Homo sapiens: one gene and its partner. The protein of the gene in region 2 interacts with the protein of the main gene of each other region in a pairwise test. Each region holds a gene or a part of one and is shown on either strand. Other genes may lie near its edges.

Region 1 (7,277 bases), on a different chromosome or scaffold from region 2:
AGTCCACACTCCTTTCATCACACTATTTTCCCCTAAAAACACATCATTTTGGGAGGCTGAGACAGAAGAATCGCTCGAACCCGGGAGGCGGAGGTTGAGGTCAGCAGAGATCACACTACTGCACTCCAGCCTGGGCAATAAGAGCGAAACTCCGTCTCAAAAAAAACAAAAACAAAAACAAACAAAAACCCTAAATCATCTCACGTTTCATGATATATAAGAATGAATGAAGGGGTTGTATTAATAATTTTATACAAAATAAGGTCCCTTTCCCCTTGGAATAGTCTAGACAGAATATTCAAAAGCTCCTTTCATTTTATAGAAACACATAAAATACTGTATTAAGGTGTTACAGTAAATATGGAATTGCCATTAGTTCTATTAATCAATTCTAGTATTCTATCTTCAAAGACTAATGAGTATCAACTAAATCCCAGTAAGAATGTTTCATGTACACAACATTAATTCAACATTTTAAGTAATAATTTAAGAATGCAATGTATTCCTAAATGCATAATATAAAACTAATAGCTTTCCTTTCTAGGGTTCAAGTGGCCTCCTTGTAGCTATTTTAAGGCAAGAATACTGTTTGTCTCACTTTAGGGATTACTATGACAATACTTCAAACACCTTCATTTATGTGATTTTAGTTTCATTATCAGTATTCATATAAACATTTAATGCCTTCAATCAAGTAGCATCTACTGTACTTCAAACAAAAGTGCCAAACAACTTGAGGTTGACTGGGTCCTTACATAAAAAGCTGTTTGGCCAGTTGTGGTGACTTATGCCTGTAATCCCAGCACTTTGGGAGGCCGAGGTGGGTGGACTGCTTGAGCTCAGCTTCAGCTCAGAAGTTCAAGACCAGCCTGGGCAACATAGTAAAACCCCGTCTCTACCAAAAATACAAAAAACTAGCCAGGCGTGGTGGTGTGCACTTACCGTCCCAGCTACTGGGGATCACTTGAGCCTGGGAGGCGGAGGTTGCAATGAGCTGAGATTGCTCTACTGCACTCCAGCCTGGGCGACAGAGTGAGACCCTGTCTCAAAAAAAAAAAAAATTAAAAAAAATGCTGGGAATAAAGGCAAGAGGGAAGAAAACCCCAATTAAAACAATATGGAAAGTACAATGATATAAACAATAAAATGGCAAGTTTATAAGAAAAAAATTTAGTTCAATAAAATAAAAAGGAAGTATTCCACTTTGTTTTAGGTACTTTAACCAATATTAATAATGCAAAGATGACTAAGATTCAGTTCTACCTTCACTGACTTGTATTAACTTCAAGCACTGAAAGTATTTAGTGATACATGTTCATGTACACATAGTGACCTATTTTCTTTTCTTATACTGTTGGTTGGTGACAGTAGTCAGATCTTCTACAATATCCTTGCTGATTTTTGTCTACTTGTTCTACCACTTACTGAGATAGGCACGTTGAAGTCTCAAACAATAATGGCTTGAGACCTTGGATAAGTTGTTTGTAACTCCATAGACTTGTTTATCTGTTCGGTGGAATTAAGAATGGATTAAATGAGATGACACATGTAGTTTTTGCACAGTGCCTGACACAAGTTTGTTGTTATTAAAAGACAAGTGAACTGATTTTTATAGGGAGTTAAAAACATTTAAAGAAACTCCTAAAGATAAAACATATCATAAACTTTGCAAAATTGAGAAGATTTTGCAAAGTCAATCTAACTGGTAATATGAAATCTGGTTTACTTTTACCTCATTTTAGGGACTCTCTTTGGACAAAAATCAGAATATAAGAAATGTGACAGACCACCTAGTTAAATCTCATTTTAGACATGAGGAAAACCGAAGCCTAAAATTGTCCAGTTATAAACTAGTGACCCCTAAACCAATGTTCTCTCAAGCTGCCTTATTTTCCTAAATCCCAATAAGAATATTTCTAGTGTATTTTTAGGAGTGGAGAAGAATTCCCTGCATGTACAAGGTATTTTAAAAAACAGAAGTTAAATTAAATCTAAAACCCCTCTTTTTTCACTTATTTTAGACAAGACAATAAAAAATATTTAATGAAAAGTTTTATTATTTGGCCTTTCAGTAAACCTGAAAGAAAAAACCAGAAGAGGGTGTAAATTAGAGATGAAAGGCAGAAGTTTTCCTAACTGGGGAGCTTGAAATTATGTTCATGCTCTTTGGAGAATGTTAACAGAAACCTTAGAATTATCTGTCTGGGTACCATACAATGGAATTAGATTCATTTGTAAATGATTCTCTTCCAGACTTGCTTAGTTCTTTGCCAGGAAATACATTTCCAAAGCTCTGATTTTAAATAAATTTTAAGACATATTATAAATTTAAAAAATATAACTTACATAATTTATTGGTATAGCCTACGAAAAACTTACTAAAATGACATTTTTTGGCTTTAACTAGCATTTGTTCAGAGTATAAAAGAAATTTAGCAGTAAAAATTTACCTTATCTGATATATAATTTATCATCTCTGTACTTTCAATTGTACTGTCAATTTCTACTAATGCTATCTTCTCAGACTTGATCCTCACAACAAATGAGGGAGAGGGGAGAGAGAAACCTGGAAGAACAAGTAGATGAAGTAGGTTTTTTCCAGAAGAGAAAACAGGCTCAGAGAGGTTAAGTGATTTATCCAAGGTCACAGGCAGCAAGTGCAAAACACAAGGTTTCTAACTCCAAGTCCAATGTCCTTTCCTGCATTATACTAAATGGCACTGGTAGAAAGGCAGAAGAGAAGGCAAAGGGAAAGGGAGGCACAGAGAAGGGAAATAATAATAAAAAGGTCAGCCCCAAATGCAAATATATACTTTTACATTGGTAACCATTTTGGGAGATCTTTTCTAGTTGTTTGAAGCCATTCCCTCCCCACTTCCCCTTCAATCATGTTCAAGACCAAATTACTTATGCTTACCTTCAACTACATCTGCAGTTTTCATTAAAGGATTTTCTTTTATTATTTTAAGGCTTAGTCTTATTATTCCATGATAGACTTTACTTGTGACCAAACCAGGCTTCTCTGCATGCAATGAGGAATTGTAGTCCGTACTTACCGGACAAGGGCAACAAACACTTGAAGTGTCCTTACATCTCAAACACTGGCATGGAAGAGGTCCTATAGTTAGTGTAACTTAAAATTCTCAAAGTCAGTTATAGAATAAAGACTTGAACTACTCAAACAGTATTAGACTATGCATACATTCAATTTAGTATATCTGGGTTTGGTAATCCTAACATTAGAAAATTATTTTCAAGGCTTAAATATCAGATTTAATCTTTGTAAGTCTCTATATAGTAACTAATGGTAGCATGGGGAAAATGTTAAAAGTAAATCCACAAATTATGGCATATAAGCTACTTGGGAAGCATTAAGAATGCAGTTTAATAAAAAAGGTATCACTTAAGGATCACCTGAATATCAATGGAGATTTAAACATAACTATCCATGATCTACTTGGAGCTTCTTAAAAAGCTTTTTTTATTTTTAAGTGCAAATACACTCCTTTAGTATCTTATGAACATTATCTACTTTCTCATCTTGAGTTTGGTTACAAATTCTACATGGCAGGAATGACACTGTTTAGAATTCTATAACAATCCTATAAATTATAAAATAGTACTGTAGTAGTCATCATGGCTCTCCTTGTGGGCACATAGTTGTCATATACTTTCTCAGCCTTTTGAAGTTAGGTGTGGCCAGATGATTTGCTTTAATGAAATATGAGCAGATGTGATAAGCATTACTTCCGGATCTAACATTTTAAGACCAGTATGTGCTATGCTGTAGTCTTTCATCTTCTGGCACAACAGAAGATCAGTAACACTGGAGATGGTGGCTGCTGTTGGCCTGTGTCCCTGAATGACTAAAATGAGCAGAGCCCCTATGAACAAGAAATAAACCATAGTTGTTTTAACACTGAGGTGTCAGAGTTCTTTGTTAACCACAGCATAACAAGCCCATCTTGACAGAAGTGCCAAGTATCTAAAAGGCATTCAGATATCCGTTGGTTCTAGTTCTATTACATTGGAAGAATATAATGAGTCAAACTATCTGCTAAAGCCAAAAAAGGTGGACATGATTAAACGGTGGTTCCAAATTAATTTCAGATTTACCTTAACAAAAGTAATGTGCTTAGCACTTACAGTTTCATATATGTCGATTTCTTTATCTTCCAGAGTCTCTACAGGAATTGTAGATATGATTATGCCCAGGTGCAAAAGAGGAATCTGAAGCCTAGGGAGTTTAAGTGACTTGTTCAAGATTACACAGTGAGTTATTGGCACAGGAATATCTATTTCTGATTTGGTTCTTTCCAATATACCACAGCTGAACAGAGACTGTCACAGGCAGTTTGGTGTAGCTACAATAGGTATTTTTACATATTGTATAAGCTACGATATTAAAATACACATACTAAAACATTTTTATGTTTAAGGCAAAAGTATTCAAAACCAAATCAGCAATATATTAAGCATTCCCTTATAACTAAATGCTACCTTTCCTTAAAAACTTACGCTGTAAAGAACCACCTAGAATTCCAACCTATAAACATTGTTTGAAAATTTTCTAGATAGAAATCTCTAACAGACTAACACAAATACTTGGTTCCCTGGATCATTTTCAGGTTGTTGGTAACCAAGGGGTACAAAATACACCCTTGAATTACCACTTCATTTCCCATTTCCTCCCTAGTGAATCAGAATAGTTCATTAGCTGAATAAGGCAGGAAGAAAGGCAGTAGATTCCCCACCCATTTGCAAAAACAATTACAGTAACTGAACCCTTCTCAAGGGTCCCAGAACTAATACAAACCATTATTAACGAAATTTAAATTTTAAAGCCTAGAAAAATTGTAATATTTAATTTTTAAAGCTAGTGTCTATATATATACGCAAATTAACTTTCTGTACTACAAATGACAGTAAATTTTTAGCTGGACACATTAGAACTATATTACAATTAAAACTGTGCCTTGTGGGTAGTACAGACACCAAAATTTTATCAAGTAAACTAATTTGGATAGTGGTATTTTAAATTATGCATATTAGAAATTCAGTATCCTACGATTAGGGCACAAGTTAATCCAAAATACTAACCTTCCAGAGCAGAATGCTTCAATACTGAAGTGGCAATGTAGAGTACAAAGAATTTTATTTCTGATGTCAAACTATGCTAAATCCAATCTCAACTATTTGAGCAAGTTAGCTCTCAGAACCTCTGTTTCTACCTCTCTAAACGGCAGTAACCACCTAGCAGGGTTAAACGGCACTGGTGAAGCACCTAACATAGTACTAAGCAAAGAGAAGTCCAACAATGCACCCTCATCCCCATAAAAGAAAAAGACACTGTGCTGTAGCATCATTCTGAAACTATTTATTCTCATGAAATATGTACTTCTCCTTGAAGAGAAAATTTATGTACAGCAAGACCAAGCTTTCTCTTTTTCTCCTGGTCACAGACGTATAAACCCTATTTCAGTTGTGTTAGAGCTTGAAGGGTGGTTCCACCCTAAGAAATTGGGAAGACAAATTGAAACAGTGTAAAGTATTAATTGTTAATAAAGAATTTTGTTTTATAATGTGTAATATATTAAGCACACTTACTATTCATACATAAATATCCAGATATTGGGAGTATGCACATTTTTTTTGGACAGGGTGTACAATAAAAAGAAGCTAGAGACGACTTTTCTAGACTATGTGGCTAGAGAACACACATAGACCATTAATTAAAGTCTAATGAAAGATACACATTTATCCTAATAGTAATACAAAATCTTGGGTTACAAGTCTCTAAACAACTGAATTTATGACATTTAGTATTAATTTATAATGTATTAAGAATGGGTATACAGTTCTATTTTAATTCACTTTTTAGTCTAAATGGATATAAATGACTGTACAAATTGGAACAAAACCTGCTGACTAAAATTAGACCTGTTAATCACTGTTAATATGTCTTGCAGGTACTATACTTAAAAACAGAGACGTTCTAAGTTTATAAAATTAGGTCTTAAAATCTGTTGTCAGGTTTATTTTTGATGTCCATATTCTAAAACTTCTTTGATTATATCAACAAGCCTCTTCAGTTCCTGGCTTTATTTTACAGTATTGTTGTTTCACAACAGATGCAATGCTTTAAAAAACAAGGCCAATTTAACATTTACAAATGACCATATGCTACTGGGGAGTATAAATTCGAGGTCAAACACTCTGCCAACTTTCATCAGTATCAAAAGCGGTAGTTTGTGTTTTAGAAAAACACTGGAACTCAGAGGCCATCTACATGAGTTGCTAGTCTATGTGACTCAGAATTCCATTTGTCCTGCTCTTTGCTTCAGAGCTGAAGTCATAAATGTCTCCATCTGTGACATAATTATTTCCAAAATCAATTAAGAGATGTCAAATAGAAAATTATGGCTTCAGGTAATACATAAAATGGCAGAAATGGATAATTTAATCTTAAGGATGAAAGTTTAGCTCCTTCAAAGCAAACAAGAAAATGAAATGATTTGCCCTGTTTTACTTACTTAGGACAGATTCTCTCCCGTGGGGAAATATAATACTGTAAAAGAATGTGAACATTAGAAGTCACTTCGTTCTCCATACGAGTGAGCAAACACTTTACAGGTTTATTACTATGCTGCTGGGACATGGGGGTGGCAAAGGGGTCAATGATCCACAAGTTGTATGGTTCAGAACAGCAAAAGGACCAGATTTTCTGCTTTTAAGATAGAGGATGATGACATACTTTTAACAGTATTGTCAACTCTGGGAAAATACAAGGTTTAAATGGAAGAGCCAGCAATTTGTCTCCATGATCTAAGACATAATTAAATTCAACATTTCCTTATTAACCAAATAAACACAGCCCTCAAAAGAAAAACTAAGGCTTTATCTCATTTCCTATCACGTAATAGCTGGTACAAAATAAAAACTTGGAATTCACTTTACTTTTAAAAAACTGATTTCTATAAAGATTAACAACATACACAAGTAAGGGCCATTTAGCAGTGCTTTAAGGGGTGTCTACTATAATGAAGGACTAAAGTTTGTATTAAACTAAATCTATAAAATATGTTATCTTGTCCTTCAGTAAAACTGGCACGTAAATGTTTTCTTCCTTTGTTACCCTAGACTGTTACCATAAGCACACGGAAGCAACTTGTCCTGAGAAGTGGCATCTTCATATGGCATTCAGGCTTCTTCACATTCTGGTGTGAACGCCTGCCTTCCCCCTTTTCCACCACTCCCCTTTACAGACCTCAAGTATC
Region 2 (7,277 bases):
CATGGACCTTGATGACACTCCTTCTTTGCACCGCAGTTGTCTCATCTGCAAAATGGGGGCACTGAAGTTGCCGCTTACTCCCAATCCCCACTGCTGCTAGCTTGCCACAGATCTTGAAACACGAGCCTCAGAGGGGGGTTCTCACCAAGGCACTTGGACTCTCCCTCTGCCTCTGCCCCCTCCCGAAATGTGAATCTGAGGAACAGGCATAGGAATTCCTCCCAACACGGCTGGGAAGACTCACAGCCCGCTCATGATTGGTGGAAGGGTTGTGGCACTTTGAAGACCTATTTGATGCTCTCCTGGGGTCCCAGCCATACAGGAGCAGGCCTCACCGGCTGTCCTGTGGCCAGGGTGGTCTCTGCGGCCATTCCTGAAGAAGTTGGAAGCAAGGAGATGAAGGTGCTGGGTGTCTCTGTTCCTGTTCCTCCTGGGCAACAGCAGGAGGTCTCCATCCTCTCCCCCACCCCACCCCACCTCCATGCATAGCCCTAGAAACCGGGCACTGGACTCCTTCCACACATCTCAGAGTTATATTATTGTAACAAATCAGTCAAAATTCCATTTTACAGTTAAATAGTACAGAAGACAGTTTACTGTACAAGCAAGTTGTGCGTTAAAAACAAACACCAAGCAAACGATAGTGCAAAGCAGTTTCCACCCAGCTCCATCCTCTCGCCAGCTCTGGGATGGTTTTACATCAGATGAGTGCAGCAGGTGTCACACCTCAGCATGACAATATGTCACAAAAGATTGGTACCCACTACTGACAGGCTCACAGTAACACTATATCAAAACGTCTTCCTTTCCTCGTGCTTCCTACATCAGTGTGTTTGCCTAGTACAACTTTAACGCAGCCTTGTAAATAAGGACCTACTTTTACCAGCCCAGGCTGTCTGTACCCACTTTGGGCCTTACAGACTCAGTACGGCTGCCGTCACTTTTTGTCAGGGGATGGGGGATGGGGTAGGAAGAGCAATTTATTTACTATCCCTGCCTCTCCAGGATCAGGAAGGGTTAGTAATCTGGGATGAGACTACAAAGTGCTGGGCACTGGGAACCCAAAGGTGCCTCCCACGCTGACCTGGGACCAGCTATAACCAGAGAACAGGAGGGAAGAAACTACAAGGACAATGGATTCATAGCTGCTTCCTAAGAAGGCATGGAGAGGCCCCTTGGGTGCAGGGAGTCAGCAACTATTTTGAGGAGATGGAGACTGTTTTTCCAGTGAGGACAGGCCAAGAGAAACCGCAGCAGGAGGGAATGGAATAGGATCACCAGAAGGACTGCCTAACCTGCCAGTGTGTCTCTGGTGTATGGTTCTGGCCGTTGTGACAGGTTGGGTGGGGACAGTGCTCTCACAGAGACAACCAATGAAGAGCATTTTGTAGGGCAGATTTCTGCATCCACAGAGGCCGAGGCAGAAAGTTAAAATACCGCATGCTGCTAGCCTTTATGAGTTCCCTTACGCCTTTTCTAAGCCTTTCTAGGGCCAGAGAACTCTGATGTGAGAATCCATGCAGCCTGGCCCTTGGGCAAGCGCCCACTTTCCCATTTTGCAAAATTCAGGGGCAAGACTTCACCTCGGAACGCAGTGCAGCTGAGCTGCGGCTGGAGAGCCCTTTACAGTGCTTCTGTCCTGCCACGCACAGCCAGTACTCCCCACCTCTCACATCCTGCCCACCTCCGCCCAGCCTCCTGGACAGATGTCCTAGAGCCACAGAGGAGAGATGCCCAGCGTCTCATCAGCGTTTCCCTCGTCCTCCCAGGGGAGCCTGTGGTGCAGGCTGGTGGGATGCTGCCTGATGGGGAGTGTAGCCCCTTGAGAAAGTATTGAGACCCTAATAACCCCACACCCTCAGGAGGCAGCTGGGGGTCCGCGGGGGGGAGAGGGGGCGGGGATGTTGCTTATAATCACAGAGCTATCATAATCACGGAACTATACCTGTAAGAGACCTTGTGTTTGAAAACGTTAGATTAAGCTTCTTTTTCTAAAATCAGTTTTAAAAACTGTTTTGTTTTTTTTTTGTTTTTTTGTTTTTTTTTTTTTTTTGCTCAGGACTATTTGCTTTCAGAGCACAAAACAGGTTACAGACAGGTGTGTGCCAGGAGTCGCAAGATTTGGCTGGATCCTCCCAGGAGGCTTGGGGGATGGGGCACAGCTTGGCTGGACCCAGGGGGGACAGGGACATTGATGTCTGACCCAAAATGATCCCTCACCTCAATGCCTTCTGCTAGGACCTATCTATCTGGCCCTCCTGTTCTCTCCACAAATGGAATTATGAGACCACCTAGGGGAAAGGGGACCTCCTATCCCCCCTCCCCCGCCCTGCCAAGAGAACAGAGAGTGGATGCGTTGAGCTGGTAAAGTGCATGGAGGAGCCGGTCTGTAGGTGCTTTCCTGGGTTTAAGAACCTGATGCCATAGACTCATCTTCTCTGGGGCCTGGGACCCGTGCGGCTGGGGGAAAGCCAACAGTTAGGAACGGAGGGGAAGCTGGGCTGGGGGGACTGGCTTGGATGTGTTCTCAAACCATCTCTGCCAGCAGCGTGCTGGGTCCTGCCCCATCTGTACAATGAGGGGAACCCCGCTCGAGGGTGGTGGGGGTGGGGGACACTTTCCAGTTCTGACTCAAATCTGTGTAAATGCAGAGGGGGCTGGACCCAGGGGATGCAGGGGCTCCAACGAAGGTGCAGGGGTCGGGAGGTTTCCCAGGGCCTGAGGCTTATCCTGTGGGCCAATGCTGCCTCTCTCTGGAAGAGAGATGGCCTCTGTCCCAGGAGACATGGGTCCCATGCAGCACTGGGCATAGCTGGAGACAGTGAGGTCCTTCCGGGGGGGTGGCAGGAGGCTGATTCCCCACAGAAGTATGGGATGAGACGGCCAGGATCTGGGCCGGGGGCAGTATCCCGGGCCGGGGTGGGGGTGGTAACCTATGCCTCTGTACAAGGATGTGGCTGCACAGATGCAGCCAGAGGCTCCCACCAGCTGGGACCACCCTGGGACCGAGACCACCCTGGAGCGCAGGTCCCATTCCCGCCCGGAGCCTCGGAGCCGGCCCATCACTGGTCTTGAAGGTTGTTAGGGTCCCCGCCTCCAGCGGGAGGAGTCCACCAGGGCGGTCAGTAGGGCCGCCACACGGCCTCATCCATGCGGCCTGGCGTGCTCAGGGCCGTGGGTGAGTTGCTGTGGCTGCCGTCGGCCTCCACGCCATCACTCTGGCCGCCCAGGCTGGGGTTCATGAGGTTGCCGGCGGCGACAGAGGCAGCGCTGCTGGTGCAAGAGGCCAGCATGCGGGTAGGTGAGCGGTCGCCCCCACTGCTGCTGCCGGCCACCATGGAGAACTGGTAGGAGCCAGAGGATGTCCCGTAGTAGAGGTGGTAGGGGGACGGGTTGGCCTGGAAGGGCCCGCTCTGGTTCTGCGGGGCCCCCGGGTAGGGTGGCGGGAGGTAGGTATGGTGGAAGCGGCTGGTGGCCGGCATGCCCGCCACGCTGAGGCTGCTGATGCTCGTGCCCGAGGGCGTGGCGCTGTAGGGGAAGGCAGCTGACATGGCCCCGGGATAATGCATCCTGGGGTCTGGGAAGCGGCTCTCCGTGAGGGTTGGCAGCGTGGGGAAGGAGCGGTCAAACTGGCGGGGGTCGGAGAATGGGTTCAGTTCCGAGGTGCCTGGAGGACAGCAGGGAAGAGGTCAGTTCCAGCTCGAGACAACCCCAGGAGGGCTTCCTGAAGAATGACCTTGGGCTCTGGTTCCCAAGGCCCATCTGGGGGACCCCTAGTTCTAGACCTGGCTCTCCTCTTCCTGCCCTAGGCTGCCCGGGGCCTCCCCCGCCAGGACTCCGAACACAGACCTGCCGGGAAGCTGGTTGGAGCGTGCCCCGGGCCAAGAGGGGCCATGGGAGCCCCCCCACAGCAGCAACAGAACAGAGGAGGGGGTCTATTCTTCTTTTTAAATCCTCCTTCCCAGCCTCGCAGAGGAGAGGCCTAGGATGCGGTGGTGGGGCTGAGGGCAGAGTCAGCTCAGGCCTCCCAGCAGCCCTGCCCAGGCAGGTTCCTCTCCCCACCGGCCCATGTTAACAGCTGGGAAGGCCGTGGATGTGTAAAGGGCTCCAATGACCGTGTGAGACTGGGAGTTGGAACCCGCTTTTGAAGACAAGAAAATGGAGGCAGAGAGAGAGCAAGACTGAGTCTCTGTGGCAGAGAAAGGACTGGTTCTCATCACAAGGCCTCTGCTGGGGACACACGTGCCTCTCCTGCCCAGGTGCAGCACGCGGAGGTTCTGTGCGCTCACACCTGGGTTGTGGGCACTGAGTTCACAGGAGCTCTGGCCTCCACCTCACCCTGGGCCTGTGTCTCTGGAGCCGACTCGTGGCCACACAGTGACTGGATGCCACCCTAACCTGCCTTGGCAGCAAAGTGAGACAGCAGTCAGACAAACTTGGGGACCCAGACCCCAACCTGGTCACAGTGTCCAGCCCAGACTCTGCCCCTGCTCCCCCAGGAATGTGGCTTCTCAATGGGCTCCAAGGCAAGGGTGTTCCATCCTCTGTCCCCAACTTTTGTCATCACAGACCCCCAAAACCTCAGCATTCAAAGGGGCTCAGGGATTGAGTCTAACACCCTTGATGGGGAAACTGAGGCCCAGACAGGGTGAGGCACTTCCCTCAGGGTCACACAGCACATTGGACCTGGCACACAATCCTAGGGCCTCTGGTCCTGAGCCCCAACACGTACTTGAGAGGGAGCTGTCCCGTCTTTGAGGCAGCACAGGATCAAGGCTTACTGTGTGGCTTCTGGAGCCGGACAGTTATCCTGGTTTGGACACTTACTAGCTTTGTGTCCTTGGGCAAGTCACTTAACCTCTCTGCGCATCAGTTTCCCCATATAAAACATGAGACGATAACAGTTCATCAGGATTCAGTTAATTCACATCGAGTACTTAGAATGGCACTGGGCACAGAGCAGGGGTCCATGAGGCTTTGCAAGGCCACTGTGGCTGTGGTGTCTCTTACTCTGGGTACCCAGGAGAACTGGCTCATTCAGGGCCCTGCCAAGTTGAGGCCCTGGTGCAGGGCCTCCCTTCTACTCTGGCAGCCGGGGGAGGTGGATGAGCCCCCAGCAGTGGTCCAGAGGTGCAGTCTGTCCAGCCCAGCAACCCCTCTGTGTCACCCACCAAAGGATAAGGGCCGGTGCTAGCCGGAGTGGGCTCTGCCTGCCACGCCGAGGCTTGGCTGAGGACGGAGAGCTATGAGCCTGAGGTGTGTGTGACTTCGGCTGGGACTTGGAACTTCTCGGGGCTTTGGGGTCTTCCCAAGTCAGCTGGGGTATGTTTCCCTCAGCAGCGTACTCTGGCCCTGGGCGTGGATCCGAACGGAGTGATGCTCCTGGCTTAAGGTAAGAAGATGTGGGGACAGCAGTCTGGGTGGCGGGGGCCTTCTGGGACATCTGGGATGTTCCCTAGTAGGTCACTTGGCTGTCCCGGCCCCTTGAGGCCGAGAGCCTCCGAGGCACCTGGCTGCCAGTTTTCATCTGGGGAGCCCCTCGGGGGGAGAGGTCCTGTTGCAGGTGCTGGGCACGTCAGCACAGCTGAGATGGGTGGGGTGGAAGTGGGTGCTGGCCGCCTGATGGGAACCCCATTCTCAAGACGAAGGAAACAAATGGGGACCGCAGGATACAACGGCAGGACTGTGCCCCTCAGAGCTCACGCGGGCTGCAGGGCGCTGGGCTGGGCCTCCCTGGACCTGCCACCATCCCCTCCAGCCTCTTTCCTCAGGGCCACCACCCCTCCTCCGGGGTGGTGGGGGAAGTACCTGCCCTCAGCACTCCCTCAGACCCCCCAGCAGCTTCCTTGGAGCTCCTGTACCCCCACCCTGCGGCCTCGCAGCCCCAGGAAACCCGAGCTGCCCGGGGCACTGTCGAGTGGCCAATCCCAACAGTGGAAAGAAATGTTTATTTTCTTCTCCAGATTGTCCGGGCTGCTGCATGGTGGCTGAATGAGCCCTTTCAGCTGTGAGAAGCCCCCATTGTGGGCGGCTGCGGCTGGGGGCTGGGGCTGGGGTATGGGAGGTGCTGGGGTCTCTGCACTGCTTGCCAGTGACCAATATTGGAGGGTCAAAGCACTTAACAGGCACCGAGGGAAGTGGTGGTGGGGTGTCCCAAGGGGGATCCCCAGGAGGGAGTCCGAGGGCAGAGGGAGGAGGGCCTGTGAGAGTGACTTCCCAAGCCTAGGTCTGCCAGCAACCCCTCTTTGTCAGGGACCTCCTTCTCCCCACTTCACAGATGAGAAAACTGAGGCTGAGTTTAAGTGACTTGTCTAAGATCATACAGCCAATGCCTGGCAGAGCCTGAATTCCTAGCCTGGTCCAGCTGACTGCAGAGTTCATGCTCGCCCTGTCCTGGTCATCCGAGGCCCTTTCTCTCACCCAAAGGGGATGGGCCTGAGGATGGAGATGCCTGGCTGCCTGTGGCCCAGTGCTGTGGGGGGCTAGCGAGGGACTGGGCCAGGCCTCAGGAGGGAGCAGGCAGAGAAGCAGAAGTCAGCCACTGCCCCACACAGGCTGGGCTCCTTTCCTCCCAGCCCAGGATGGAAGCAGCAGCTGTGCCTGCCGTGGGGCCAGGCATTGATTCCCAAGCTGTGCCCACCCAGCAGTGGATGGGCAGATGTGGGCTCTCCTTCCATGGGGGCTGGTGGACAGGAAGCCACTGTTCACCCCACCTCCTGGATTCTGGCTCCCCCGCTGAGCCCCGATCCCCTGGCCTGGCTCTGTCCATGGCAGAGAAAGGCTGGCTCTCAGGCTACTGCACCTCGACAGATGCTGGCCCATGGGTAGCAGAAGCAGAGGCAGCTACGCGGCAGGGGTGGGCGTGAGCACAGCGTGCAGGGCTCCTTCCGCTACCTCTTGAGAGCAGACCTCCAACTCCTGGGCTCGAGAGCTGAGAGTCTCAAATGCACTAGCTCCTGGGCTCAGAGAGGCTGGGCCTGGGGCTTCTCCCAACCTTGGCGTCTCAGCAGGACCAAGGCCAAAAGTCCTGAGCCCAGGCCAGAAGGGGAGGGGTCCTCTCTTCACACTGAAGGCCTGCATCCAGCCCCTGGCTGCAGCACTATGCCTGGAACAATGTCAGTAGAGAGACCCAGTCGGCCCCCACCTCAGCGTGGCACCGGAAAAGGGGGTGGGGCAGGCAGACCGGTTGGCAGCCCTGTTCCAGGCCCCTTTATCTGTCCCCTCAGAAGTACAGAAAGTTCTTGGGAGCAGGTACTGTGGAGACTGTGGACCTGGTC

The links.
Region 1: the proteins of RUNX3 (region 2) and MEX3C interact in binary tests that used the Homo sapiens proteins (3 or more experiments, as listed by UniProt).

Annotation. Positions count from the first base shown.
Region 1 is NC_000018.10:51,187,551-51,194,827, forward strand, and holds part of MEX3C (RNA-binding E3 ubiquitin-protein ligase MEX3C), read right to left. Parts: intron 5,513-7,277; coding exon of another isoform or gene 5,457-5,512; exon of another isoform or gene 5,356-5,456; intron 1-5,355. UniProt on the Homo sapiens protein: E3 ubiquitin ligase responsible for the post-transcriptional regulation of common HLA-A allotypes. Binds to the 3' UTR of HLA-A2 mRNA, and regulates its levels by promoting mRNA decay.
Region 2 is NC_000001.11:24,899,000-24,906,276, forward strand, and holds the end of RUNX3 (runt-related transcription factor 3), read right to left. Parts: intron 3,668-7,277; coding exon 3,123-3,667; 3' UTR 512-3,122; downstream 1-511. UniProt on the Homo sapiens protein: Forms the heterodimeric complex core-binding factor (CBF) with CBFB.